Linked DNA regions of Homo sapiens. The main gene of each other region encodes a partner of the protein of the gene in region 3 in a complex. Each region holds a gene or a part of one and is shown on either strand. Other genes may lie near its edges.

Region 1 (7,024 bases), on a different chromosome or scaffold from region 3:
CTGTTTATGAAAACTAAAAATACTGAAGTTTGACTAACGACGGAGTGAAATTAGCTTACCTGACTACCACAGATGTTTTCATACTCTTCCACAAGATCAAAAACTGTACTCGAAGAGTGCTTCAGAAAAGACTGCAGGAAATCAGAAAACATACTCATGGATGCTAGAACACATCAAAAAAAAAAAAAGGAATAAAGAAAAGTTAAGTGACGTACTTCTAGGTAATTCCGTTTGTTTGAAAATGTATTTATTTGTTTATTTATTTTTTGAGATGGAGTTTCACTCTTGTTGTCCAGGGTGGAGTGCAATGGCACGGTCTCAGCTCACTGCAACCTCCACCTCCCAGGTTCAAGTGATCCTCCTGCCTCACCCTCCCAACTAGCTGGGATTACAGGCATGTACCACCATGCCCAGCTAATTTTTGTATTTTTAGTAGAGATGGGGTTTCACCATATTGGCCAGGCTGGTCTCAAACTCCTGACCTCAGGTGATCTGCTCGCCTCAGCCTCCCAAAGTGCTGGCATTACAGGCGTGAGCCACCGCACCCAGCCTGTTTGAAAATTTAAATGGCTACAAGTCTTTTATAAATTCACTGCTATATTAAAAAAAAAAAAATTGAGACAGAGTCTCACTCTGTCACCCAGGCTGGAGTGCAGTGGCGCAATCTCAGCTCACTGCAACCTCCACCTCCCAGGTTCAAGCGGTGCTCCTGCCTCAGCCTCTCAAGTAGCTGGGACTACAGGTGCGTGCCACCATGCCCAGCCAACTTGTTGTATTTTTAGTAGAGACGAGGTTTCACTGTGTTAGCCAGGATGGTCTTGATTTCCTGACCTCATGATCCGCCCACCTTGGCCTCCCAAAGTGTTGGGATTATAAGCGTGAGCCACCGCACCCAGCCTCAAAATTTTTTTTAATTGGCAAGATACACATAATATAAAATTTATCTTAATCATTTTTCTTTTTTTTTTTTTTAAGAGAGGGGGATCTTGCTCTGTCACCTAGGCTGGAGTACAGTGGTGCAATCATGGCTCACTATAGCCTCAAACTCCTAGGTTCAAGTGATCCTCCCACCTCAGCCTCCCCAGTAGCTGGGACTATAGGTATATACCAGCCACCATGCCCAGCTAATTTTTTATTAGTCTGTAGAGACAGGGTCTTGCTAACTCCTGTCTCAGCATCCCAAAGTGGTAGGATTAAAGGCATGAGCCACTATCCCTGGCTTAATCATTTTTAAGTGTATAGTTCAGTGTCAGTAAGTACATTCACATTGTTGTGCTACCATCACCACTATGTATCCACAGAACTATTTCATCTTGTAATACTGAAACTCTGTACTTAATAAACATTAACTCCCCACTCTCCACTTACCCCAGCCCCTGACAACTATCCATCTACTTTCTGTCCCTACATGTGTTGACTATTCTAAATATCTCATGTAAGTGGAACCATAGAGTATTGCCCTTTTGTGACTGGTTTATTTCACTTAGCATAATGTTCTCAAGGTTCATCCATGTTGTAGCATGTGTCAGAATGTCCTTCATATTTGGCTGAATAATATTCCACTGTATGTATAGATCACATTTTGTTTCCCCCATTCATCTATCAACAGGTACTTGGCTTGCTTCTACCTTTTGGCTACTATGAATCATGCTATGAACATGCATGTACAAATATTTCTTTGAGACTCTGCTTTCCAATCTTTTGGATATATACCCAGAGGCAGGTTTGCTGGATCATATGGTAATTCTATTTTTAATTTTTTGAGGAACTGCCATACTGTTTTCCATAGCAGCTGTACTATTTTACATTCCAACCAATAGTGCACAAGGATTTGAATTTCTCCACATTGTTGTCAATACTTGTTATTTTCTGGGTTTTTGTTCTTGTTGTTGGTTTGTTTGTTTTTCAGTAGCCACACTAACGGGTGTAAGGCAGTATCTTGTAACTCACTGTAGTTCTGATTTGGATTTTCCTAATGATTAGTGACATTTGAGTATATTTTCATGTGCTTACTGGTCATTTGTGAATCTTCTTTAGAACAGTGTCTATTCTATTTCTTTCTTTCTCTCTTTCTTTTTTGAGATGAAGTTTCGCTCTTGTTGCCCAGGATGGAGGTGCAATGGCATGATCTCAGCTCACCGCAACCTCTGCCTCCCGGGCTCAAGCGAGTCTCCTGCCTCAGTCTCCCGAGTAGCTGCGATTACAGGCATTCGCCACCATGCCCAGCTAATTTTGTATTTTTAGTAGGGAGAGGGTTTCTCCACATTGGTCAGGCTGGTCTCGAACTCCCAACCTCAGGTGATCCACCCGCGTCAGCCTCCCAAATTGCTGGGATTACAGGCATCAGCCACTGCGTCCAGCCTCTGTCTATTCTATTTCTTTGCTCATTTTTAAATTGGGTTGTTTTTTTGTTGTTGAGTTGTAGCAGTTTTTATACATTTTGGATATTAACCCCTAAGCAGATATATGATTTGCAAATATTTTCTCTCATTCTGTGGGTTGCCTTTTCACTTTGCTGATTGTATTCTTTCGTGCACAAAAGTTTAAAATTTTGATGTAGCCCAATTTATCTATTTTTTCTTTTGATACCTAAAGGTCTTTTAAGATCTCAAAGATATACTAGTTATTTTATAAACAATTACTTAAGAAATTGAGCCAGATTTAAAAATATCTGAATTATATTTTAAGCACACCATTACAAAGTAGTGGAGAAAGTTATAATACATACTAAATGGCATGTTCCACTCTGGGAAAATACAGGCACTTGGCCTAAGTAGAAAGTATTTTGAGTCACTTAATACGAGTACCTGTTTTTGACAGATACTACAAGAAAGTAGTAGTTACCAAAGTGTTAAGAGCAGGGCTCTGGAGCTAAACTGCTTAGTTTCAAATCCTGGTACCACTACTTCCTAGCCAGGTGGTTTGAGGTAAGTTACTTAACCACTTTGAGCAGTAGTTTCCTTTTCTCTAAAATGGGAATAATTATTGTAACTATTTAATGGACCACCATAAGGATTACATGAGTTAATGCTTGTACAGTGGTCATAACACTATCTGAAAAAAAATAACAGCATTACGGTCCAGGAGAAAACAAAACACATCAACAATGTTAGATTAAGAACTAAACCTAAAGAAAGAGATGCTCTTTCAACAGCACAAATAAGAAAAAAATTACAATATGAGACTTGTCTAATAACGTAACAGGCTGCTATTTACATTAAAAGATAAAATGGCAAGATGCTGCTCAGACTGAGAACCAAGGTGAGGTTCTCAACCTTCTAGTGATACTGTATCAAATACCATTGCCATAACCACAACTAATTAGCTTAAGGAAAAATATATTATAGACAGAAGACCAGATGAAGACACAGGAGGAAGACAGCCATCTGTAAGCCAAGAGAAGAGGCTTCAGAGAAAACCAACCCTGCCAAGACCTTTAACTCAGACATCTAGGCTCCAGAATTGTGAGAAAATAAATTTATGTTGTTGCCTATAATCCCAGCACTTTGAGAGGCTGAGGCGGTAGGATCACTTGTGTCCAGGAGTTTGAGACCAGCCTGGGCTGGTCTTTGTAGACCCTGTCTCTATAAAGAAATAAAAAATTAGGCTGGGCACAGTGGCTTACGCCTGTAATCTCAGGACTTTGGGAGGCTGAGGAGGACGGATCACTTGAGGTCAGGAGTTCGAGATCAGCCTGGCCAAAATGGTGAAACCTCTCTCTACTAAAAATACAAAAATTAGCCAGGCGTGGTGGTGGGCACCTGTAATCTCAGCTACTCAGGAGACTGAGGCAGGAGAATCACTTGAATACAGCAGGTAGAGGTTGCAGTGAGCCGAGATTGCACCACTGCACTCCAGTCTGGGCAACAGAGTGAGACTCCGTCTAAAAAAAAAAATAAATAAATAAATAAATAAATAAAAAATTAGCTGGCGGCCAGGCGCAGTGGCTCACACCTGTAATCCCAGCACTTTGGGAGGCCAAGGCGGGTGGATCACCCATGGTCAGGAGTTTGAGACAAGCCTGGCCAACATGGCAAAACCCCGTTTCTACTAAAAATACAAAAATTAGCCGGGTGTGGTAGCAGACGCCTATAATCCCAGCTACTCTGGAGACTGAGGCAGGAGAATCATTTAAACCTGGGAGGCGGAGGTTGCAGTGAACCAAGATCCCATCACTCCACTCCAGTCTGGGTGACAGAGCGAGACTCCATCTCAAAAAAAAAAAAAAAAAATTAGCTAGGCATGGTGGTACATGCCTGCAGTCCCAACTATTCAGGAGGCTGAGGCTGCAGAATTGCTTAAGCCTGGGAGGTTAAGGCTGCAGTGAGCCATGATTGTGCCACTGCATTTCTGCATTTAGCCTGGGTGACAGAGTGACTGTTTTTTTTTTTGTTTTTTTTTTTTAGACGGAGTCTTGCTCTGTAGCCCAGGCTGGAGTGCAATGGTGCGATCTCAGCTCACTGCAAACTCTGCCTCCCGGGTTCAAGCGATTCTCCTGCCTCAGCCTCTCAAGTAGCTGGGATTACAGGTGTGCACCACCATACCCAACTAATTTTTGTATTTTTAGTAGAGACGAGGTTTCACCATGTTGGCCAGGCTGGTCTTGAACTCCTGACCTCGTGATCTGCCCGCCTCGGCCTCTCAAAGTGCTAGGATTATAGGCATGAGCCACCGCGCCCGGCAACAGAGTGAGACTCTTGTCTCAAAAAACACACACACAAAAATCTGTTGTTTAAGCTACTCTCTCAAGAAAAAAAGACAGAAAGAAAGAAAAGAAAAACATAATGACGTTCAGAAACAGGAAGAAATGGTTTCCTTCATCTTGCTAAAGTGAAAAGCTACTTGTCACAAAGCTCAATGCCATTTTACCAGCTTCTCCAGGATCATCCTCACGTAACATAACAGCACTGATAGTTACATCTTCTGTTATACTGTGGGGCTCTGTGTTTGTGAACAGCCCGGAACGCTGTGATGAAAATGCAGCTGCCCAGTTACTGTCATCCAGATTAGTAACCTTAAAAAAAAACAAAAAAGTAAAAATACAGAAAAGTGATGGAGTTATTGTCACTGAGTGGATACTTTAAAAACAAATAAGGTTTCTAAAAATTATATGTATGTATGCGTCTTTTTTTTTTTTTTTCCCTTCTTGAGATAAGGTCTGGATCTGTTGCCCAGGCTGGAGTTCAGTGGCACGATCATGGCTCAACGCAACCTTTGCCTCTCAGGCTCAAGCCATCTTCCCACTTCAGCCTCCCAAGTAGCTGGGACTACAGGCACGTGCCACCACGCCTGGCTAATTTTTGTATTTTTGGTAGGTATGGGGTTTCACCATGTTGGCCAGGCTGGTCTCAAATTCCTGGCCTCATGTGATCCACCTGCCTCAGCCTCCCAAAATGCTGGGATTACAGATGTGAGCCACCATGCCCGGCTACTATAGTGTATTTTTAATACTTAGGTGAAGTCATTCTGCATCACAGCTTACATAACATTTCTTTTGCTATTTTTAATACTGTTCCATAGTGATTCCTAAAGAGTATCTCACCTACTTTTTCCAATTTTCTCTTTTATCCCCTTTAATACATTTTATCTCTTCCTTAAGATATTCTTCATCTGTTAACCTCTGATTCCTACTCTTGTATGCTTCAAAACAGGGATCAGATTTTATAGCCATCAGCAACCAACCACAGCATGTACTTCTTCTGGTCAGCAAACTGACAGATTAAAACATCTTATTTTCATCTAAAGGTTGCTGGTGTCACAGTTTCCATCTGTGATATCAGATGCATAAGGTTTTCAGTTTTTTTACTGTCTAATTATTTCAATCCATATAACCTAAAGTTACTGTTATGATGATTCTGACTCAATATTTGTTAAAAGACTTTTACATCAAATATCATATTTTTATAAAAAGGGAGAAGTTCTTTTTTCTCTTTTTTTTTTCTTTTGCAATCACAGGTCACTGCAACCTCTGCCTCCTGGGTTCAAGCAATTCTCACACCTCAGCCTCCCGAGCAGCTAGGATTACAGGCATAAGCCACCACTCCCAGCTAATTTTTTTATTGTTAGTAGAGACAGGGTTTTATCATGCTAAGCAGGCTAGTCTCAAACTCCTGACTTCTGGGAGGCCAAGGCGGGAGAATCACTTGAGGTCAGGAGTTCAGGGAGTGCTGAGATTACAGATGTGAGCCACCACACTCGACCCAAAAGGAGTTCTTAGCCCTATTTTTCTACATACCATGGAGAGATTTCCAAAGAACCCTGAAGACTGCGTAAGTCGGGGCGACTTCCCTCCTGTTCCAAGAATGCAGGAAATATCTGGCTGCCTTAGTAAGCTTCGGCTTGTTGGGGTAACTATAAACAAAAGGTTGGTAGAAAGAACCTAAAGTGCGTGAGCATTCATTATCAAAACAAAGTAAGCAAACAAACAATGAAGAATAAATTTTTCAGTTTTCCATTATTTAGACTCTAACCAAATAAATACTTTAAATGTTAACATTTCCATGATACAAGGATTTAACTTATTTTTCTAAATTTGAGCTGTAGGTACTACTGAGCCTAACAGGAAACATTTTACTGCAATTACAGATGCTTTCATTATAGAATAACTGAGCAGTTAAAGACACTAATCAGTCAACGGATTCTTCATATTTTAATTTTATAAGGCATACTGAGGCAGTGCAGTGTAGTGGGCATAAACTTTGGAGTAAACAGATCATTGTTTGAATCCCAGTTCCATTATTTACATACTCTTTTTTTTCTGTCTCAGAACAAAAAAAGAGTATGTAAATAATGGAACTGGGATTTTTTTTTTTTTTGCTCTGTCGCCCCAGCTGGAGTACAGTGGCACAATCTCAGCTCACTGCAACCTCTGCCTTCCGGGTTCAAGCAATTCTCCTGCCTCACCCTCCGGAGTAGCTGGGATTACAGGCATGTGCCACCACGCCAGCTAATTTTTGTATTTTTAGTAGAGATAGGGTTTTGCCATGTTGGCCAAGCTAGTCTTGAACTCCTGGCCTTAAGTGAT
Region 2 (7,024 bases), on a different chromosome or scaffold from region 3:
AAAAGTCTCTTAAAAAGCACTTGCATTAACTTAAGAATTTATTCTAAAATCATGACGAAGGCATCAACTGTCTCAGCTGAAAAGTTACAACACACTTTACATCAGTTTATATTACATAGATTTCCAAATAAGCCAATTTGAAATATTTAGTGTAAACATATGTAATCCATGGTTCAAGACTGAACTGATACATTTGGAGTAGGTTTATTTCAAGTATCTGGCTTTGTGGCCGAGTGGAATGGTGATGGTATACCATCACTCATTACTCGCACAACATCCCTCCCCTCTTTTGACTGGTGGTTGAACAGTTACTTGCTTTAGGATACCCAATTTCCAAATCCCCATGTAACAGGGAATAAACCTGTCTTTCCTCACTAAATAAAATGAGGTAATTTCACCCGAAAGAACACAGATGGGTGGAAGACAGTCAATATTCATAATTGCAATATACAAAATTTTGTGTTCTACCTGGATTCTTTGTAGTTCCATATTGAGTAGGCCAATAAGAACATCCTCTTTTCTTTAGCAATTTGCCTAACATTTGATACAAGCCATTTCCAAATACGTTTTTGGTGTGTATCAAACTTGAGAAACTAGGAGCTCTGGAAATTATGCAGCAGTTTGAATTTACTGCCTTTAAATTGTCTTCCTTACTTTAGAATGAACCCGAAGCGTAAGTAATGAATTTTTTGGATGTCAGTGGCTCTTAGGAATTGTCATTTTATTTCTGCTACAAAATTTACCAGAAAAAGGTACTGCAACAATCTTGTATAAAGCAAATCTTTAACGAAAGAACATGGTATAGACTTTCTAAAAATATTCATACTTTATCACAATAACTACAAGGAAAAATTCAATTTCTATCATCAGAACCAAGCTGCAGTTTCTGAGGTAGTAGAGACAGATGACAGAAAAGTTTGAAACAAAACCCCTAAAGGAAATAGTCAACTTGTTTAAAATGTAAAAATTAATCGAATATCTATGAAAGGGCACAGGAAGCTAGATATTTTAAGGAAGGAAGGTACGCTACTTACAAAGTTAACTTGTAACCACACAGGAGGTGTAAAGATTCTAGAGAAGAGCACTTTGGTTAACTCTATACGTTCTGTGGCTCTACCCATTCATAAACGAGTCTCTATGCATAAATGAGTACACCAATAGTTAAGATTACCAAATATATTTCAAACCTAAAATTAAATTATCCAAGTTGTGGTCCCTTTATTCAAATGGTAAGTATATCCATGCAGGAAGTCCAAATATCTTAAAAGGAATTAAAATTAAATTGCATATATCATATTCCTTCAATAGTTTGAGGTCTATTGCTTTTAACAAGATTAGTATTATTCCATTTTAATACGTCAGGAGTACATAAACACAAGTACACCTGAAATACACCAGTGTTTAAACTTTTATTTCACACCATGCAAGGTCAATTATAACACATTAAAAAGTGACAACAGCTATAAGCTGCAATTTTACATTTGTAAATCGGAAACGTCCATTTTCAAAAGCTGAACATAACTATCAAATTGTAATAGCTAAGCTTCAATCCAACTGCTTATACAGATGAAATTTTCTATGAACAACAATGATTTTATATCTGTCCACATTCTGTGATAGTTATTCTTCGACAAACAGACCCTTTGGGAGAACCAAATGATTCAATCTTTTTCACAGTATCCATGCCATCCTTAACAAACCCAAATACTACATGCTTAAAGTCCAAATGTTCTGCTTTCTTCAGTGTTATAACAAATTGAGAATTATTGGTATTCTGGCCTTGATTGGCCATGGATAGTAAACCAGGACCAGTATGTTTCACATCAAAATTTTCATCTTCAAATTTGTCTCCATAAATGGACTGTCCGCCTGTTCCATCATGTTTGGTGATATCTCCTCCCTGAAAAAAAGATTTATAATAAAAAAGTTAAAAATTTTTTTCAATTAATAGGAATCCTGAGTAAAATATTAAAATACACACAGAACTCATCACTACATGTTAAATCCTAAAGCCCAGCTTTCCTGAGTATAGTTTGAAAACTAAGAAATTCATATTGTTGGAAAGAAGATGAAAAATGAAAAGGTTTTTCCCATCCCTTAGTTTCTACTAGATCTCAAGTACTGAAAATTTGATTTTTTTTTTTTTTTTTTTTTTTTTTTTTAATGACAGGCTGTCTCACTCTGTCGCCCAGGATGGAGTGCAGTGGTGCAAACCTAGCTCACTGCAGCCTTGGCCTCCTGGATGCTCCCACCTCAGCTTCCTTGTAGCTGGGATCACAGACGCACACCACCACACCTGGCTAATTTTTGTATTTTTTTGTCCAGACGAGATTTTTGCCATGTTACCCAGGCTGGTCTCAAATTCCGGGGCTCAAGCAATCTGCCTGCCTTGGCCTCCTAAAGTGCTGGAATTACAGGTATGAGTCATTGTGCCCAGCCTCAATTATTTTAGGTTGAAAGTTTTAGGCAGGAGCAGGGAATGGGTAGTGATGCCATGTGATTCCATGTGTGGAAAACCTAAAGAAATCTTTAACAAAACTACAGGATGAGGTCAAGGAAAAACACTCAAATTTCCCATTAGTGTGGTGCACTCTTCAAGACCTCAATTGTGGTATGTACTTAATAATACCTACTTGGCAAACAAAATCTGGAATTACTCTGTGAAAAATGGAATTCTTGAAACCAAAGCCTTTCTCTCCAGTGCATAGTGCTCTGAAGTTCTCAGCAGTCCGAGGAACAATGTTTGAAAATAATTCCATAGTTATCCGCCCTAGAGGTTCACCGTCCGCACAAACATCAAAAAACACCACAGGATTGGTCTCCTTTGATAATTCTGCTGCCAGTGATACATGTCCTTTCTGGAGTTTCATTAAATTCTGCTGACATTCTTCAAATGTTTTCTTGAAACAATCAGCTACTTCTTTAGTTTTAAATCTCACTGCAAGCTGTTCTACTTTTGCTTCTCCATCTGGCAGGGAGGGAAAGGGGAAGCAGTGACCTTAGTATTAAAATAACTGTTATAAGTTGTTTTGTTTGTTATAGATTTTAGAAAAGTCCAAAAAATGAAAAGTAGCATTTGAATGTAAAAACTCACCAGCATAATCTGAGGCAGTCCAAACTAAAGCATTATTTGAAACATTTAAGGGCTTTAATTCCATTGTTTTAGTAATAACGTGGTTTGCACACACTTTAAAAACCTGGTCTCTTCTCATTAGGATCCGGTAATAATTCTTCATTGTATGCCAAAGAATCTTTATATCTCCAACACCGCGCTCCTTCCACTGACTGACATCCCGATCCCATCTATAAAGTTTGGCTCTCTCTTTAAACAAAATTTCTTCATCTTCTTCTCCAGATTTTACTTCTACCTATAATAGGAGATGAAATTCTCTATAAGCTGCTGCTTATAATAAATTCCATGACAAATTTCAAAGATCCAAATTCTTTTAAGGCATTTTCTTTGTGATGACAAAGAGAATTTGTTAATGTGATAACTGGTTATATATCTTAGGGCTAGGAATATATCTGATTTGGCTGAGGGAGTAAAGACCTGATTTATCATTAAACATTTTCTTTTATATAATATTCATTTTCCCTTTGGAAATTAAATGCTTTTCTTTATAGGACAGAGAGGTTTCAAAAGTGTTTGCTACTGAAGAGAAATATTAGCTACTGACTGAGGTTAAAAAATGACAAAGTAATTTTCCTAGAACAATGTTCTTGTCCAAAAAACATACAAGGTTAACATTTATTGAAAGGACTTTAGTGAGTATGAGGTTAATTTTTCCCCAGAATCATGTTATAAAAACAAACATGATATTCTAGAAACATAAGAAAAAATTATTTCTTACCAATAATTACATATAGAATTTACAAACCAATATTTATGTAAAAACTGTAAAAAGATAATTTATACTTAAAGGCTAGACATCTAATAAATAGAGCTTCCATTTCAAACAGTAAACATTCTTAAATGCAAACAATTATACCCTGACAGATCAAGCCAGGGTAAAACTTAAAAATGAAAAATAAGTTATTAGTAAAAGGTTAATTCCTTAACATTTACCTCTGGTAGTGACACTATTGGTTCAAAATGGATATCTTCATTATGAACTACTTCTTCATCACTACCATCTTCATCTTCACCAACTTTACCGGCTGACTGGGTTCCGACTGACTGTGTTCCAAACACAGCTGCTCCAGTATTTGCCCATTGGAAATTTTTATCTGATGAATAAATCAGGATATTTAAACACTAGTATCTATTTTTTACATTTTTCATCCCCCTCTTATTTTATCAATCCCTCTAATTCCTGATGATGTAATATGTACATCAATTTTAAATGTTTAAAATTATATTATTCTAGTAAATTCCTCACGCCTGTAATCCCAGCACTTTGGGAGGCCGAGGTCACCTGAGGTCAGGGGTTCGAGACCAGCCTGGCCAACATGGTGAAACCCCATCTCTACTAATAATACAAAAATTAGGCTGGGCGCAGTGGCTCACGCCTGTAATCCCAGCACTTTGTGAGGCCGAGGTGAGCGCATCTCCTGAGGTCAGGAGTTCAAGACCAGCCTGACCAACATGGAGAAACCCCGTCTCTACTAAAAATACAAAATTAACCAGGCATGGTGGCATATGCCTGTAATCCCAGCTACTCGGGAGGCTGGGGCAGGAGAATCGCTTGAACCCAGGAGGCGGAGGTTGCGGTGAGCCAAGATGGCACCATTGCACTCCAGCCTGGGCAACAAGAGTGAAACTCCGTCTCAAAAAAAAAAAGAAAGAAAGAAAGAAAAGAAAAGCCGGGAGTGGTGGTATGCGCCTGTGGTCCCAGCTACTTGAGAGGCTGAGGCAGAAGAATCGCTTCAACCTGGGGGGCAGAAGTTGCAGTGAGCTGAGATTGCCCCACTGCACTCCAGCCTGGGCAACAGAGCAAGATTCTGTCTTTAAAAAAAAAAAAAAAAGTTAGCAGTGTGTGGTCATGGGTGACTGATCCCAGCTACTCAGGAGGCTGGGGCAGGAGAATCACTTTAACTTGAGAGGCAGAGGTTGCAGTGATCAGATACCGCCCCACTGCACTCCAGCCTGGACGACAGAGCAAGACTCTGTCTTTAAAAAAAAAAAAAAAAAAAAAATTAGCCGGGCGTGGTGGCGGGTGCCTGTAATCCCAGCTACTCAGGAAGCTAAGGCAGGAGAATCGCTTGAACTTGGGAGGCGGAGGTTGCAATGAGCAGAGATCGTGCCATTGTACTCCAGCCTGGGTGACAGAGCAAGACTCTGTCACCAAAAAAAAAAAGGAAAAAAAGGAAAAAAAAAAAAGCTAGTAAATTCAACTCATACTGTTGAGTACAGAGTACATTTATTATTGTTATGCTTAGCGATACAAAGATAAGACTGTCACTGCCTTGGATAAACTTCCTAATACTAAACTACACAAGGACTTCCAAGTAAAGAAGTAGGTTCTTTTTACCTACTTCTAAAATTTCAAGTACCCACCTTGAAATTTTGTAAACTTAGCTCAGCAGGCCAAACCTGCTACTTCCAAATTAGCCACAATGGCCTAAACATGTTTATAATTTCTGCATCTCTACTTCTTCCTGAAGAAGCTAATGCTGGAATGTAGATTTCTTGGTTGGGCTGGTGGAAAGCAGCCTTGGGAGAATCTCACTGACTTCAACTGCCCAAAGGGTATTAGATTGTTAAGCATCCTACTTCTGTATGGGGGAACAATGATGGTCTCACTCTCGCATACCTGCAAGAAGGTGAAAACTAGAAACTTCTCCATCCCATACCTCAATTTAGATGACCAAGTCCCCACTATCTTAGAGGAAAGAAACACCTCTCAACTTTTTATCACTTGCTGAATCACTGTCTTAAAGAACCCTACACCTTCTGCTAAAAACTCTCATGAAAAAGAAAAAATGTCACAGGATACATAACTCAGTACCTTAAAGAACACAATAAAAAATCAACTCTCTTTCAGACAGATTTAATGGAGGGGAAAAAAAAATGTTTTTAAAGAGGAGAGAGGGCCGGGTGTGGTGGCTCATGCCTGTAATCCCAGCACTTTAGGAGGCCGAGGCGGGCTGGTCACTTGAGGTCAGGAGTTCGAGACAAGCCTGGCCAACATGGCGAAACCCCATCTCTACTAAAAATACTAAAAGAATTAGCGGGGTGTTGCAGTGCATGCCTGTAATCCCAGCTACTCAGGAGGCTGAGGCAGGAGATCACTTGAACCTAGCAAGCAGAGGTTGCAGTAAACTGAGATCTGCGCCACTGCACTCCAGCCTGGGCAACAGAATGATCGTCTCAAAAAAAAGAGACAGAAAGACAAAAATTCTTAAGGACATATTGCAAAGGAATGATCTGAGAACAAAAGCCACAGGTTGCATGGGAACTTCCTGAGAACAGTAACCACTGATCTGGATGAGATACCAACTTGGGGGCTCAAAAATAACTGTTCAGGGCCAGGTGCAGTGGCTCATGCCTACAATCCCAGCACTGTGCAAGGCCAAGGTGGCAGGACTGCTTGAGCCCAGGAGTTTGAGACCAGCCTGGGTAACATAGTGAGACCCCTGTCTCTACAAAAAATGTAAAAATTAGCTAGGCATGGTGGTACACACCTGTGGTCCCAGCTACTTGGGAAGCTGAGGTGGAAGGATTGCTTTAGAGCCCAGGAGGTCAAGGCAGCAGTGAGCTGTGTTCATGCCACTGCACTCCAGCCTGGGCAACAGAGTGACATCCTGTCTCAAAAACAAAAACAAAAACAAAATTGTTCAGCAACTTTTTTGCCAAAAGCAAAAATTTAAAAAATAACCCCAAGGGACATGTGGCAGAAGAATTCAAAATTATTTCAAAATAGTGGTTCTCTACCCTGGGAACACATTAGAATCACCCACTTGTAAAAGTATTTGTAATATATCAATATCTGGGTCTCACAGGTCATAACTGGGCCTACAGTAATGTTACTGTAAGTGAATAATTAATTTGGCAAGCTTTGAGACATTAGAGAAAATAAGATTG
Region 3 (7,096 bases):
GCTAATTTTTTAAAAAATTTTTTGTAGAGACGGGGTCTTGCTATCTTGCCAGGGTTGGCCTTGAGCTTGTGCACTCAATTGATCCTTCTGCCTTGGCCTTCCAAAGTGCTGGGGTTACAGGCATGAGCCACTGCATCTGACCACGTTTATAAAGTTTTAGGAACAAAAAAAAAGTGTTTATACCAGGCACAGTGGCTCATGCCTGCAATCCAAGCACTTTGGGAGACTGAGGTGGGCAGATCACCTGAGGCCAGGAATTCAAGACCAGCCTGGCCAACATGGTGAAACCCCATCTCTACTAAAAATACAAAAATTAGCCGGGCGTGGTGGCATGCATCTGTAATCCCCAGCTCCTTGAGAGGCTAAGGCAGGAATCACTTGAACCCAGGAGACAGAGGTTGCAGTGAGCCAAGATCGTGCCACTGCACTCCAACCTGGGCGAGAGCCAGACTCTGTCTCAACAACAACAAAAAAACGTAGCCGGGTGTGGTGGCTCATGCCTGTAATCCCAGCACTTTGGGAGGCTGAGGCAGGCAGATCACCTGAGGTCGGGAGTTCAAGACCGACCTGGCCAACATGGCAAAACCCTGTCTCTACTAAAAATATAAAAATCAGCAGGGCGTGGTGGTGGGCACCTCTAATCCCAGCTACTGGGGAGGCTGAGGCAGGAGAATCACTTGAACCCAGGTGGCAGAGGTTGAAGTGAGCCAAGATCGAGCTACTTACACTCCAGCCTGGGAGCAAGACACCCCCCTCAAAAAAAAAAAAAAAAAAAAAAAAAGTGGCCGTCACGCCTGTTATCCCAGGACTTTGAGATGCCAAGGCAAGTAGATCACCTGAGGTCAGGAGTTCAACACCAGCCTGGCCAACATGGTGAAACCCTGTCTCCACTAAAAATACAAAAATTAGCCAGGTGTGGTGGCATGCACCTGTAATCTCAGCTACTCGGGAGGCTGTGGCAGGAAAATCGCTTGAACTCGGGAGGCGGAGGTTGCAGTGAGCTGGGATCATGCTGTTACACTCCAGCCTGGGTAACAAGAGTGAAACTCCATCTCAAAATAAATAAATAGGCCAGGTGTGGTGGCTCACGCCTATAATCACAGCAATTTGGGAGGCCAAGGAGGGCAGATCACCTAAGGTCGGGAGTTGGAGACCAGCCTGACCAAAATGGAAAAACCCCATCTCTACTAAAAATACAAAATTAGTCGGGCGTGGTGGTGCATGCCTGTAATCCCAGCTACTCGAGAAGCTGAGGCAGGAGAATCGCTTGAACCTGGGAGGCGGAGGTTGCGGTGAGCCGAGATCACGCCATTGCACTCCAGCCTGGGAAACAAGAGCGAAACTCTGTCTCTAAATAAATAAATGTGTTTACTTCCTACATTTAAAAAAAGGTTTTTTTTGGTAACAAAAGCTACACAAAGAACCCAGAGAACCCACTCAAGAACACCACCACTTACCAGCTCTCTCAGAGCTGACCTTCCAAGCAGAATAGTCCACAGTTCTCTACTGCTCCTGCAAAATGAGAGAACAGAGGTAATTTTGCTCTTTCTGATCATACAAACTTGTACACTGCCTCATAGCCATTTTGTCTGCTCTCTAAAAGCAAAAAATCTCAATATACAAAACGATTTGTTAAATTTTTGGAAAGTAATCTTGTTATATAATAATATTGTTAGGGCCGGGCACGGTGGCTCATGCCTGTAATCCCAGCACTTTGGGAGGTCGAGGCGGGCGGATCATGAGGTCAGAAGATCGAGACCATCCTGGCTAACACAGTGAAACCCTGTCTCTACTGAAAATACAAAAAATTAGCCAGGCGTTGTGGCGGGTGCCTGTATCCCCAGCTACTTGGGAGGCTGAGGCAGGAGAATGGCATGAACCCGGGAGACAGAGCTTGCAGTGAGCCGAGATCGTGCCATTGCACTCCAGCCTGGGCGACAGAGCGAGACTCCGTCTCAAAAAAAAAAAAAAAAAAAAAAAAAAAAAAAAGTGGGGAAAACACTGCTGGCACAGGGAAGGATAAGAGACGGGGATGTTTAACTTTGAGGGAGGGTGGTGGGAAGAACGAAGACCTTCGAGCTGCAATGTGGAAGACAGAAGGAGGCGTGGTGGTCTGGTTATAGCACTGGAGGTACGCAGACTTCAGCTTGAAGGCTCTCTTTATCACTTGGCTAGCTCTGAGCCGGACTTCTGAGTCATCTGTGAAATAGAAGGCGCCTCTCGGAGTTGCGAGAATTGAATGAGATAACTCCTGGGAAGCGCTCCACCAGGGTCTGACGCTAGAAAGCACTTTGTCAGAATTGTAGTTTTCGTATATAATATTTCATCTTCTTGTCCCTAAAGCCTAGTTCAATCCCTGAAATCTCTTGGAGGATTTGGACATGCTGGCTGACTTGATTCAGTGCAAGAAAAGAACGATACGAGGCGCGGAGAGGACAGAAGCCGCAAGCGTGGCTCCGCTCAACGCGAAACAAAATCCTAACAAGAACAGATCGCGGGAGAGGTCGGGGAGCCAGCAGGGCGCACTCGACGCCGGGGCAGGACACTGGGAGCCTGCAGCAGGGACGTGGGTGGGGGGTACCCCAGGAGACCGCAAAGCTCCCCGTGGCTCGAGGGAGCGTCACGGCCGGAGAAGGAAGCGCGGGTGGGGCGCCAAGAGACGCGTCGGAGGTGAGAGAGGAGGAAGGCAAAGGGCCCTGGGTGAGGAGATGGGAGGCCGAGCGCGGAGGGAAGGGGTGAAGAGCCGGCCCCCCTCCTGAAGAAGACTCTTCAGATCCCCGCGCGCGGGGACCGTTTGGACGTAACCGCCTCCCGTCTCGGTGCCCGTCCATCCAGCCGGGGTTGGCCCTGCCACTGTCGCCACATCCCGCCTCCAATTCCCGCCCCGCTTCCGCTCGGCTTTGACACCGCGCTTCACAGCCACCCCGGTCCATTCGACCCGCTCCGCACCTCACACACGGCCCGCCGGCGGCCGCCGCCATCTTCGCGCGCCCGCTCGCCCTAACCCCGCCCCCAGACGCCATGCCCACGTGACCGCTCGCCCCCGGACCCGGAGCGTGGGCGGGGATTTCGTCACGTGACGTTGCCGCGGGGCGGTGCCAAGATGGCGAGGCCCAAAGAGGTGAGGAGCCGGCAGCGGGGGCGGCTGTAACTGTGAGGAAGGCTGCAGAGTGGCGACGTCTACGCCGTAGGTTGGAGGCTGTGGGGGGTGGCCGGGCGCCAGCTCCCAGGCCGCAGAAGTGACCTGCGGTGGAGTTCCCTCCTCGCTGCTGGAGAACGGAGGGAGAAGGTTGCTGGCCGGGTGAAAGTGCCTCCCTCTGCTTGACGGGGCTGAGGGGCCCGAAGTCTAGGGCGTCCGTAGTCGCCCCGGCCTCCGTGAAGCCCCAGGTCTAGAGATATGACCCGAGAGTGCCCATCTCCGGCCCCGGGGCCTGGGGCTCCGCTGAGTGGATCGGTGCTGGCAGAGGCGGCAGTAGTGTTTGCAGTGGTGCTGAGCATCCACGCAACCGTATGGGACCGATACTCGTGGTGCGCCGTGGCCCTCGCAGTGCAGGCCTTCTACGTCCAATACAAGTGGGACCGGCTGCTACAGCAGGGAAGCGCCGTCTTCCAGTTCCGAATGTCCGCAAACAGTGGCCTATTGCCCGCCTCCATGGTCATGCCTTTGCTTGGACTAGTCATGAAGGAGCGGTGCCAGACTGCTGGGAACCCGTTCTTTGAGCGTTTTGGCATTGTGGTGGCAGCCACTGGCATGGCAGTGGCCCTCTTCTCATCAGTGTTGGCGCTCGGCATCACTCGCCCAGTGCCAACCAACACTTGTGTCATCTTGGGCTTGGCTGGAGGTGTTATCATTTATATCATGAAGCACTCGTTGAGCGTGGGGGAGGTGATCGAAGTCCTGGAAGTCCTTCTGATCTTCGTTTATCTCAACATGATCCTGCTGTACCTGCTGCCCCGCTGCTTCACCCCTGGTGAGGCACTGCTGGTATTGGGTGGCATTAGCTTTGTCCTCAACCAGCTCATCAAGCGCTCTCTGACACTGGTGGAAAGTCAGGGGGACCCAGTGGACTTCTTCCTGCTGGTGGTGGTAGTAGGGATGGTACTCATGGGCATTTTCTTCAGCACTCTGTTTGTCTTCATGGACTCAGGCACCTGGGCCTCCTCCATCTTCTTCCACCTCATGACCTGTGTGCTGAGCCTTGGTGTGGTCCTACCCTGGCTGCACCGGCTCATCCGCAGGAATCCCCTGCTCTGGCTTCTTCAGTTTCTCTTCCAGACAGACACCCGCATCTACCTCCTAGCCTATTGGTCTCTGCTGGCCACCTTGGCCTGCCTGGTGGTGCTGTACCAGAATGCCAAGCGGTCATCTTCCGAGTCCAAGAAGCACCAGGCCCCCACCATCGCCCGAAAGTATTTCCACCTCATTGTGGTAGCCACCTACATCCCAGGTATCATCTTTGACCGGCCACTGCTCTATGTAGCCGCCACTGTATGCCTGGCGGTCTTCATCTTCCTGGAGTATGTGCGCTACTTCCGCATCAAGCCTTTGGGTCACACTCTACGGAGCTTCCTGTCCCTTTTTCTGGATGAACGAGACAGTGGACCACTCATTCTGACACACATCTACCTGCTCCTGGGCATGTCTCTTCCCATCTGGCTGATCCCCAGACCCTGCACACAGAAGGGTAGCCTGGGAGGAGCCAGGGCCCTCGTCCCCTATGCCGGTGTCCTGGCTGTGGGTGTGGGTGATACTGTGGCCTCCATCTTCGGTAGCACCATGGGGGAGATCCGCTGGCCTGGAACCAAAAAGACTTTTGAGGGGACCATGACATCTATATTTGCGCAGATCATTTCTGTAGCTCTGATCTTAATCTTTGACAGTGGAGTGGACCTAAACTACAGTTATGCTTGGATTTTGGGGTCCATCAGCACTGTGTCCCTCCTGGAAGCATACACTACACAGATAGACAATCTCCTTCTGCCTCTCTACCTCCTGATATTGCTGATGGCCTAGCTGTTACAGTGCAGCAGCAGTGACGGAGGAAACAGACATGGGGAGGGTGAACAGTCCCCACAGCAGACAGCTACTTGGGCATGAAGAGCCAAGGTGTGAAAAGCAGATTTGATTTTTCAGTTGATTCAGATTTAAAATAAAAAGCAAAGCTCTCCTAGTTCTAGTTTTGCTGATATATTTTTTTTTTTATTTTTTTTTGAGACAGTTTTGCTCTTGTTGCCCAGGTTGGAGTGCAATGGCGCGATCTCGGCTCACCGCAACCTCCACCTCCCAGGTTCAAGCGATTCTCCTGTCCCAGCCTCCTGAGTAGCTGGGATTACAGGCATGCGCCACCATGCCCAGCTAATTTTGTATTTTGAGTAGAGACAGGGTTTCTCCATGTTGGTCAGGCTGGTCTCGATCTCCCGACCTCAGGTGATCTGCCCACCTTGGCCTCCCAAAGTGTTGAGATTACAGGCGTGAGCCACCATCCCAGCCTTGCTGATATTTAAAAAGAAAAGAGTCTTAAGGGATAGTCCAGCAACTCAAAGAACCTGAGTGTGCTATAGAGCCCCCTCTTTCGCCCTGCAGCCTCGGAGGAGGCCAGAGTGGACACTGGAGGGAGTAAAGCATAATGGTTAACACTTTAGTCTCTGGGTCAAACTAATCTGGTCAGAATCCTTGGCTGCACAGCTTCTTACTAACTTTGTGACCTTGAATGGCCAGGCGTGGTGGCTCATGCCTGTAATCCCAGCACTTTGGGAGGCCGAGGCAGGTGGATCACCTGAGGTCGGGAGATCGAGACCAGCCTGACCAACATGGAGAAACACTGTCTCTACTAAAAATACAAAATTAGCCAGGCGTGGTGGCATATGCCTGTAATCCCACCTACTAGAGAGGCTGAGGCAGGAGAATCACTTGAACCTGGGAGACGGAGGTTGAAGTGAGCTGAGATCGCGCCATTGCACTCCAGTCTGGGCAACAAGAGCGAAACTCCGTCTCAAAACAAAACAAAACAAAACAAAAAAACAACTTTGTGACCTTGGGTGAGTCACTTAGCCAGGCTGAACCTCAATTCTCTTGCAGATGGGAGTAATGACAGCCCACACCTCGCGGGGTGTTGTGAGGGTCCAGCCTAGAGCCCACCCTTGATAAGCAGTCAGAAAGGGAGTCATTTTTACCAAAGACCAGTCCTCATCTTAGTGAAAAGCCGAAAAGCTGGGCAAACCACTTGGAAACCAGAGTGACCTTTGCTCTCCTGGCTTCACTTGGAGGTGGAGAACTCCTGAGGGAAAGAGCAGAGGGCTAGGAATTACTGAAGGGAGAGGTGGGTCAACTTTGGCAGGGTTGAGGGAGGATCAGATCCTGCTTGGGCTGGATCTTGTTTTAGCCAACCCCACCCCGCCTCTGGTGTCCCACTGAGTGGTGTCCATAGAGAAAGATGGGCTGAACAGCACCAGGACCTCATCAAGGGGCCCTTCTTAAGACCTTTCCATGTTCTAATCCTATCCAAACCTGTGTTTGTCTTTTCCTAAGGTAGGAAAGATCCACAGGGGCTGGGGGAGTTTCCTGAGAGGTAAAATGACTGTATGAGGGGCCCACGCTGCAGCCTTGCTCTCTGGCTGGGAAGACAGGCTCCGGCACTGCCTCACTCCCCACCCCATCCCCCAAGGCTAGCACAGGGCACTGACAAGGAGCAGGAAATCAGTAGATTTGGGAGTCCATCTGCACTGTGTCCCTCCCAGAATTGTACACTACACAGATAGTGAATGGATAAACATTTTCCGTCACTAGGAAGATAGCACAGCAAGATTCCTGAGGCTGGACAAGGTTCTCCCTTTCTCCCCAAGCTTGGGAGGACATCAGAGGAGGTGAGAGCTTTGGTCCACCAAGGCCAGAAGCCGGGAGCAGAGCTCCAGGGAGCGAAGCTTCTGCTTGAGAATCACTGCCATGTCCTTTCCCTCAGAGGAGAGTATTGAGACATTTCTTTGGGACTCAATGGAGACGCTTCCCTTCTCTTAGGCTCCCTCCTATTGCTTGCAAAAGGAAGCAGCAAAATGTTGGTGAAAGAGCACCAGCTTTGCCCCACGGACTCCCAGGGTG
Region 4 (7,593 bases), on a different chromosome or scaffold from region 3:
TCAGCAGTGTTCAGTGTATTCACATTGTGCAACAGATCTTCACAGCTTTTTTCATCTTGCAAAACAGAAACTCTATGCCCCCTAAACAACTCCCCACTTTCCCCTTTCCCAGCCCCTGGCAACCACCATTCTACTTTCTGTTTCTATGAGTATGACTACTTCAGATACCTCATATAAGTGGAATCATGTAGTATTTGTGTCTTGTGACTGGCTTATTTCACTTAGTATGTCCTCAAGTTTCATCCACGTTGTTTTATGTGACAGGATTTCCTTCCTTTTTAAGGCTGCATAAGGATACTATATATATGCATGTATACGTTATGTTATGTATATGCATGTATATGTATTATGCATATTGCATGTATATGACACATTTCCTTTACCCACTCAACCCAACATTCATTCCTTGATGGAAAAAGAGTTCCTTCCCTAAGACGTTTAGTTTTTTAAAAAACCAGCTCCTGACTCTTGGCTTTTAAAAATGTTTCCTATGTTGCCAATTAAACACTCCTGACACAAGGCTTTATTATACAATGTACACTCTTTGCTGCTGTTGGCAACTCCTTTTCCCTCCAATGATTTGTTTAATAATTATAATAGCTTAGGGCGAGTATGTACTAAAGGAATGTATATAGGCCAGGCACAGTGGCTCACGCCTGTAATCCCAGCACTTTGGGATGCCGAGGTAGGCGGATCACCTGAGGTCAGGAGTTTGAGACCAGTCTGGCCAACATGGTGAAACCCCGTCTCTACTAAAAATACAAAAAAAATTGGCCAGGCGCAGTGGCTCACACCTGTAATCCCAGCACTTTGGGAGGCTGAAGGGAGTGAATCACGGGGTCAGGAGCTCGAGACCAGCCTGGCCAATATGGTGAAACCCCTTCTCTACTACAAATACAAAAAATTAGCTGGGTGTAGTGGCGGGCGCCTGTAATCCCAGCCCCTCGGGAGGCTGAGGCAGGGGAATCGCTTGAACCCAGGAGGCGGACGTTGCAGTGAGCCAAGATCGTGCCACTGCACTCCAGCCCGGGCAACAGAGTGAGACTCCATCTCAAAAAAAAATTAGCCAGGCTAGCCAAGCATGGTGGCGGGCGCCTGTAATCCCAGTTACTTCAGAGGCTGAGGCAGGAGAGTTGCTCCAACCCAGGAGGTGGAGGCTGCAGTGAGCCGAGATCACGCCACTGCACTCCAGCCTGGGTGGACAGGATGAGACTCCATCTCAAAAAAAGAAAAAAAAAAAAAAGGAAAATAAATGTGTATACCTTGCGTACTGGCTCACACCTGTAAACCTACCACTTTGGGAGGCCGAGGCAGAAAGATCGCTTGAGGACAGCAGTTCGAGATCAGCCTAGCCAACATGGAGAAACCCCACCTCTACTAAAAATACAAAAATTAGCCCAGCGTGGTGGCACATGCCTGTAATCCCAGCTACTCAGGAGGCTGAGGCAGGAGAATTGCTTCAACCTGGGAGGCAGAGGTTGCAGCGAGCCAGGATCGCGGATCGCATCACTGCACTCCCGCCTGGGAGACAGAGCAAGACTCCATCTCAAAAAGAAAAATTAAAAAATAAAATAAAATAGAGAAATGTATTATATACAACCACACGTTAAGCATATCTAATTGGGAAGGAAGGACCGCAATATTAAGCATGTAACTTCATTACTAACCTTCTAATATATACGTCTAATATCATAAAATGAATTAGGTTGTGCTTAAGCAGTAGCACTAAGTAGTTTAAGCACCTAAGACTGACTTAGATCATTAGATGTTTAACTCTGGGGACATTACGTAACTATTTGAAGCCTCTATTTCCAAATCTGTAAAACGGAGTATGTAACAGTAACTACTCCAAAGGTGTATAAACGGGAACTGAATGAGATAAGCACGATAATAAGTGCAATGCTGGGATATAGTATGTGTTCAGTAAACATAGCCTTCATTATAATTTATCATAGCTTTTCTGAAATGATTTGATTTACAAAACAGATTTAGACAACTTTTCAAGAATATCAGTCCTGTGGAAAATAGAACCAATACTTTAAAAAAGAGTCCTTTTAAGTGAGATTCTCACAAGCATTTACCACACAGATATACTCTTAATCTTGCCCGCGAACTTCAGAGCATCTCAATCGAGGCATTAACATTCTAGGCACCAAATTATTTTTCCGGACTGCTCTGACCATGAAGGACTTTCTGCATCCTTGCCCCGCCTACTATGCGACAGCAGTGTACCCCAGGAAATATGACAATCAAAATGCACTCACTCATTCAAACACCACTGGAGGGCGGTACGGCCCGAATTGAGAATCACCGAAAGAGGATCCACCCCAAATCTTCCAGAGTTCCTTTACTACCTTCTAGATTCAATTCCACCCCGAAAATCTACAGCTCCAAAGGTACAAGAACATCCAGGGCCTAACCACATCCGCAGGGTTAGAAGACGTCTGCTGAAGCCCCGCCACCCTCTTCCTGACCACCTTTCAGATGGCCGACTTCATAATAGGGAGTATTCGCTGCCTGCAAGATCTCCCACCCTATAAGGAACTCCGACGCCTACTTTCAGCCTCTGCTCATGGCTGGAAAATATCTCGGGTCCTCTGGCTTCACTGTGGAAGACCTGATGCGTATTCCAGCGAAATCGGGACCACAGACGCACAGTGAAACTTGGGGGTGAGGGGGACCAGACTCAGCCCTGGGCTGTGAGAGATTACACACCTGGGTCCAGCGGCCCAAGCCTCACTGCCTGGAATCTCAAACCCCAACTCGAGGGCTGGAGCCGCAGCACCGACGCGCGCCATTCAAACTGGGGAGGGGTGGGACTCTAGGCCCAGAATTAGGGAAAAGCAGGCACCGCACATAAGTGGGGTCCTAGACTCCGAGAAACCTCACGGTCTCGTCTCTCCATGAAGACCTGGTTATCGCTCAGCTCAATCGTCTTTCTGTCTGGCCACACTTACCCGAATTTACCGCCAAAGGCGTCGCCATCTTAGAGGCGCACTAACAGAGCCCTTCTGCCGCATGGAGGCCCCGGGAAAGGGTGAGGCTGACCTGAGCGAAGCCTGAACAAAAAGGCACCACACTGTCCCCTCCACGCTGGGCCGTCCCAGGCGTACAAAAGGCTCCAGAATCTGCTCTGGGTCACAAACATCAATTTTCATTGGGATTATTCCCATTCAAATAAGGCGAGGGCAACCACTTCAGAGACACGAGGTCCTCGATCCGACGTTCATCGTGTAGTGCATCCTGGGACTTGTAGTTTCTAATGATGAGTTGGTTAAGTGGAGAGGAAAAAGTAAAGTGGAATAGAAAAAGATATTCTGAGAGTAGTTATTAAAATGACGCCCATTTATGACATTATAAAAGCCGTAAATTCAAATCATTATCTCCGCTTCAAGTTAAATCTTCCTTACAGTGGGGAGTGAAGTAAGGTATGAAGTGTCTACACCTCAAAAAGCCACTGACCGGTTACAAACTAAGTTTCCGTGACATTTCAGTTTACCAAATATATTCTGTCAACATAGTTGCGTAGAGCGAAACAAATCATAATTTTTAATTATAAAATTTTCAAACGGATACAAAATTAGAATAGCAAACACTCAGCATCAATAACGTGGCCAATTTCCCACCACGGCAGCCCCAACCCACCCTTACCACCCCAACACCCTCCCCTCCCCACCCCCCGCCCCCGATTAGTTTGAAACAGATTCCAGACATATCGTTTCATAATCACCAAGTATTTTTCTACCTGAGCACCCAAAGTAGCTGAACTCTTTCTTCAGCTGTTAAATTTTAGTTTGCTGATTTTCAAACTAAAATGTAAATAATCATTGCTATTTACAGCTATGTATTAAGAAAAATTTTATAGCCATTATCTCATTTAATCCCTGCAAACCATTCTATTGGGAAAATGATATGATTATAACTATTTATGTCAGAGACGCTCCATGTGCCTTACAATCTCATTGTATTAACTCTCCATCATTCCCATTTCACTGTTGGAAATCAGAATCAAATAATTTAGACAAAAGCATAGAGTATGTTAAGAATATCCAGAACTGGCAGGGCGCAGTGGCTTATGCCTGTAATCCCAGCACTTTGGGAGGCCAAGGCAGGCGATCACTTAAGGTCAAGTGTTTGAGACCAGCCTGGCCAGGAAGGTGAAACCCCGTCTCTACTAAAAATACAAAAATTAGCCAGGCATGGCGGCACGCACCTGTAACCCCAGCTGTTCGGAAGGCTGAGGCAGGAGAATCCCTTGAACCCGGGAGGTGGAGGTTGCAGTGAGCTGAGATCATACCACTGCACTCCAGCCTAGGCAACAGAGTGAGTGAGACTCCATTTAAAAAAAAAAAGAATATCCAGAACAGAACATTTATTCTTTTGAACAAATAATATCAAGTGACACAATGTACATTAGGTTTGAAACACAAAAATCACTGGTGATTTTTTCTAAAAGTCATTGATATATAGAGACAAATGCCAAACTACGATTAAAGTGGTTTTAAGGAGTGAAGTGGGGAAGAGAGAAAGTAAACGCAAAGGAATTTTTCAAGAAGTTTATCATGAAACTGAGAAGAATACTGAGCAGGAACTTGACAGGAAGCGGCATTCAAAGATTTCTCTCTCAGCACAGCTATTACAAGCCTTTCCCTCTCCACATGCACTTTTTAAGCCCACACGCTTCCCTCTCAGTAGATAACTTTGCTTTCTATAAAGTAACTCTTTAAATTCCAGCAACTCCTCTTCACCTGTCATTACACTTTACAAGCATTCTCTCACAGGCTTCTTCAATTCGTAGCAATTGGGATATTGCCATCATAAGCCCCTCTAAAACTGCGCTTGGTATGTTTACCAGTTATCAGTCATCAAATTCCATGGGCACTTTTCTGAATTATGATAGTTATAGGCCGGGTGCAGTGGCGCACGCCGGTAATCCTAGCACTATGGGACGCTGAGGTGGGAGAATCACCTGAGGTCAAGAGTTCGAGACCAGCCTGGCCAACATGGTGAAACCTTGTCTCTACTAAAAATACAAAATTAGCTGGGCGTGGTGACAGGACTCCTGTAATCCCAGCTACTTGGGAGACTAAGGCAGGAGAATCGCTTGAACCCCAGAGGCAGAGGTTGCAGTGAGCCGAGATCGCACCATTGCACTCCAGCCTGGGTAACAGAGTAAAAACTCTGCCTCAAAAAAAAAAAAAGAAAAAGAAAAGAAAAAGAAAGAAACAAAATTATATTATCCTGTGGCTACTGGGGCACCAATGATACTGGTTTTCCTCCTCTTTCCAGTTCTTTTTTAGTGTTTTACGTGGACTTCTCTTCCTCTTCTACCCACTAAATCTAGCTCTTCCCCTATAGTCATCTCTAGTTTCTGTCCTTTTCATTCTACATGCTTTCTGTGGGACATCTTATGGTTTCTTACTACCACCTGCTTGCTGATGAATTCTGTGTTTGTATCTCTAGTCCAGTCCTCTCTCTTGAGCTTCATATTTGTAGAACCAACTCTCTACTTCATATCTGTATTGATTGCCACACAGGCGTTTCAAAACCAACATGTCTGAAACGTAAATGATCACTTTTCCCCTAAAACTCTGCCACCTGTATCCCCACCCAGTTGCCAAAATCGGAAACCTGGGATTCTTTCTGTATTCTTCCTTCAATTGTCAAATCCTGTTCATTCTACCTCACAAATATTTCTGGAACCCTTTTCCTCTTCTCTGCTTTCTATGCCATTGTTCAAGTCTCATCTTCTTAAACTTGGTATTTTGCAATAGCCTTCTCATTTGTCTTTCTTATTTCCATCTGATCTTCCTTTCATGGACTCCTAAGGTGATTTTTATTTTTTATTTTATTTTATTAATTTATTTCAAGACACAGTTTCACTCTGTCGCTGGAGTGCAGTGGTGCAATCTTGGCTCACTGCAGCCTCCACCTCCCGGGTTCAAGCGATTCTTGTGCCTCAGCCTCCTGAGTAGCTGGGATTACAGGGGCATTTCACCACACCCGGCTAATTTTTGTATTTTTAGTACATGGCGGGGGGCGGGGGTTTGCCATGTTAGCCAGGCTGGTCTCGAACTCTTAACCTCGGCTTCCCAAAACACTGAAATTACAGGCATGAGTCACTGTGCCCAGCCTGAAAGTGATTTTTAAATACAAAAAAACATGACCGGACACGGTGGCTCACGCCTGTAATCCTAGCACTTTGGGAGGCCAAGACAGGCAGATCACCTGAGGTCAGGAGTTCGAGACCAGCCTGACCAACATGGAGAAACCCCGTCTCTACTAAAAATACAAAATTAGCTGGGCGTGGTGGCACATGCCTATAATGCCAGCTACTCAGGAGGCTGAGGCAGGAGAATTGCTTGAACCCGGGAGGCAGAGGTTGCGGTGAGCCAAGATCACGCCATTGCACTCCACCCTGGGCAAGAAGAGTGAAACTCTGTCTCAAAAAAAAGGAAAAAAAAATATGGCCAGGCGCAGTGCCTCACACCTGTAATCCCAGCACTTTGGGAGGCCGAGGCGGGCAGATCACGAGGTCAGGAGATTGAGACCATCCTGGCTAACACGGTGAAACCCCATCTCTACTAAAAATACAAAAAATTAGCCAGGTATGGTAGAGGGCACCTGTAGTCCCAGCTACTCAGGAGGCTGAGGCAGGAGAATGGTGTCAACCAGGGAGGCGGAGATAGCAGTGAGCCGAGACCGCACCACTGCACTCCAGCCTGGGTGACAGAGTGAGATTCTGTCTCAAAAAAAAAAAAAAAAAAAAAAAAAAAAACACATGATGTGGTTGTTCTGATCAAAATTTCTCAATGATCTTCTATTACTAAGAGTTATTACTAAGAGTATCATTTAAAATCTTCTTAGCAAGGCACTCATGACACTTCCTGATATGGTTCAGCCTCGTTCTTCAGCCTTCCACACTCTTCCTCAAGAGCCCTTTACTCTAATCATTCTGAACTATTTGTTATCCCCAAATACAACATGCTTTCTTTTGCCATGTATCAATGTCTTTGCACCTGCTATTCTGTCCTCCTGGACTGCCCTTCCTTCCCTTCCTTATTCACCTGTGACCACCCACCAAGTTAACCTCCAAACATGATCTGCTCTCCAAGTCTCAGGGCCTGTGTTAATGCTGCCTTCATGATGCTGTCCTTGATCCCCTGCCCCATCAAATTCGGGTGTTTCTTTGCCTGCAGACCTATTGCACTTTTTCCCATCTTTATTACGTCCCAATGTGCTATGACAATTGTCTCCTCACTAAAACTGTTAGCTTCTTGTGGTAGATTGTTATTAAAAGGCCCTCAGTGAATCACAGGTCCCTGAATTGAAGCCATTGTGTAATCATCTGCCACATTGAATCTGGGTTGGCCTTCTGACTTGCTTGGACCAGGAGAATGCAGAGGAAGTGATGTTGGGCACTTCCAAGCCCAGGATTTAAGAGACCTTGTTACTTCCTTTTTGCTCTTTTGCCCATGTAAGGAAACTCGAGCTTGTCTTTTTGAGGACGAAAGACCATGAGGAGAGAGGCCTAGCCAACCCTTAGCCATTCCAGACCCTAGCTGAAATGTTGAACATTAGTGAGGCTATTTT

The links.
Region 1: NUP188 (region 3) and NUP107 share a complex: the UniProt entries of both Homo sapiens proteins name them as parts of the nuclear pore complex.
Region 2: NUP188 (region 3) and RANBP2 share a complex: the UniProt entries of both Homo sapiens proteins name them as parts of the nuclear pore complex.
Region 4: NUP188 (region 3) and NUP205 share a complex: the UniProt entries of both Homo sapiens proteins name them as parts of the nuclear pore complex.

What each region holds. Positions count from the first base shown.
Region 1 is NC_000012.12:68,689,958-68,696,981, reverse strand, and holds part of NUP107 (nuclear pore complex protein Nup107), read right to left. Parts: intron 6,380-7,024; coding exon of another isoform or gene 6,352-6,379; coding exon 6,236-6,351; intron 5,015-6,235; coding exon 4,870-5,014; intron 164-4,869; coding exon 60-163; intron 1-59. UniProt on the Homo sapiens protein: Plays a role in the nuclear pore complex (NPC) assembly and/or maintenance. Required for the assembly of peripheral proteins into the NPC. May anchor NUP62 to the NPC. Involved in nephrogenesis.
Region 2 is NC_000002.12:108,778,472-108,785,495, reverse strand, and holds part of RANBP2 (E3 SUMO-protein ligase RanBP2), read right to left. Parts: intron 4,228-7,024; coding exon 4,067-4,227; intron 3,369-4,066; coding exon 3,095-3,368; intron 2,969-3,094; coding exon 2,634-2,968; intron 1,901-2,633; coding exon 1,595-1,900; 3' UTR 1-1,594. UniProt on the Homo sapiens protein: E3 SUMO-protein ligase which facilitates SUMO1 and SUMO2 conjugation by UBE2I. Involved in transport factor (Ran-GTP, karyopherin)-mediated protein import via the F-G repeat-containing domain which acts as a docking site for substrates.
Region 3 is NC_000009.12:128,943,605-128,950,700, reverse strand, and holds the start of NUP188 (nucleoporin NUP188), read right to left. Parts: upstream 3,003-7,096; 5' UTR 2,982-3,002; coding exon 2,950-2,981; intron 1,513-2,949; coding exon 1,458-1,512; intron 1-1,457. Other genes in the region: DOLK (dolichol kinase), read left to right, coding at 3,398-5,014. UniProt on the Homo sapiens protein: Component of the nuclear pore complex (NPC), a complex required for the trafficking across the nuclear envelope. Required for proper protein transport into the nucleus.
Region 4 is NC_000007.14:135,553,337-135,560,929, reverse strand, and holds the start of NUP205 (nuclear pore complex protein Nup205), read right to left. Parts: upstream 3,014-7,593; 5' UTR 2,986-3,013; coding exon 2,958-2,985; intron 1-2,957. UniProt on the Homo sapiens protein: Plays a role in the nuclear pore complex (NPC) assembly and/or maintenance. May anchor NUP62 and other nucleoporins, but not NUP153 and TPR, to the NPC.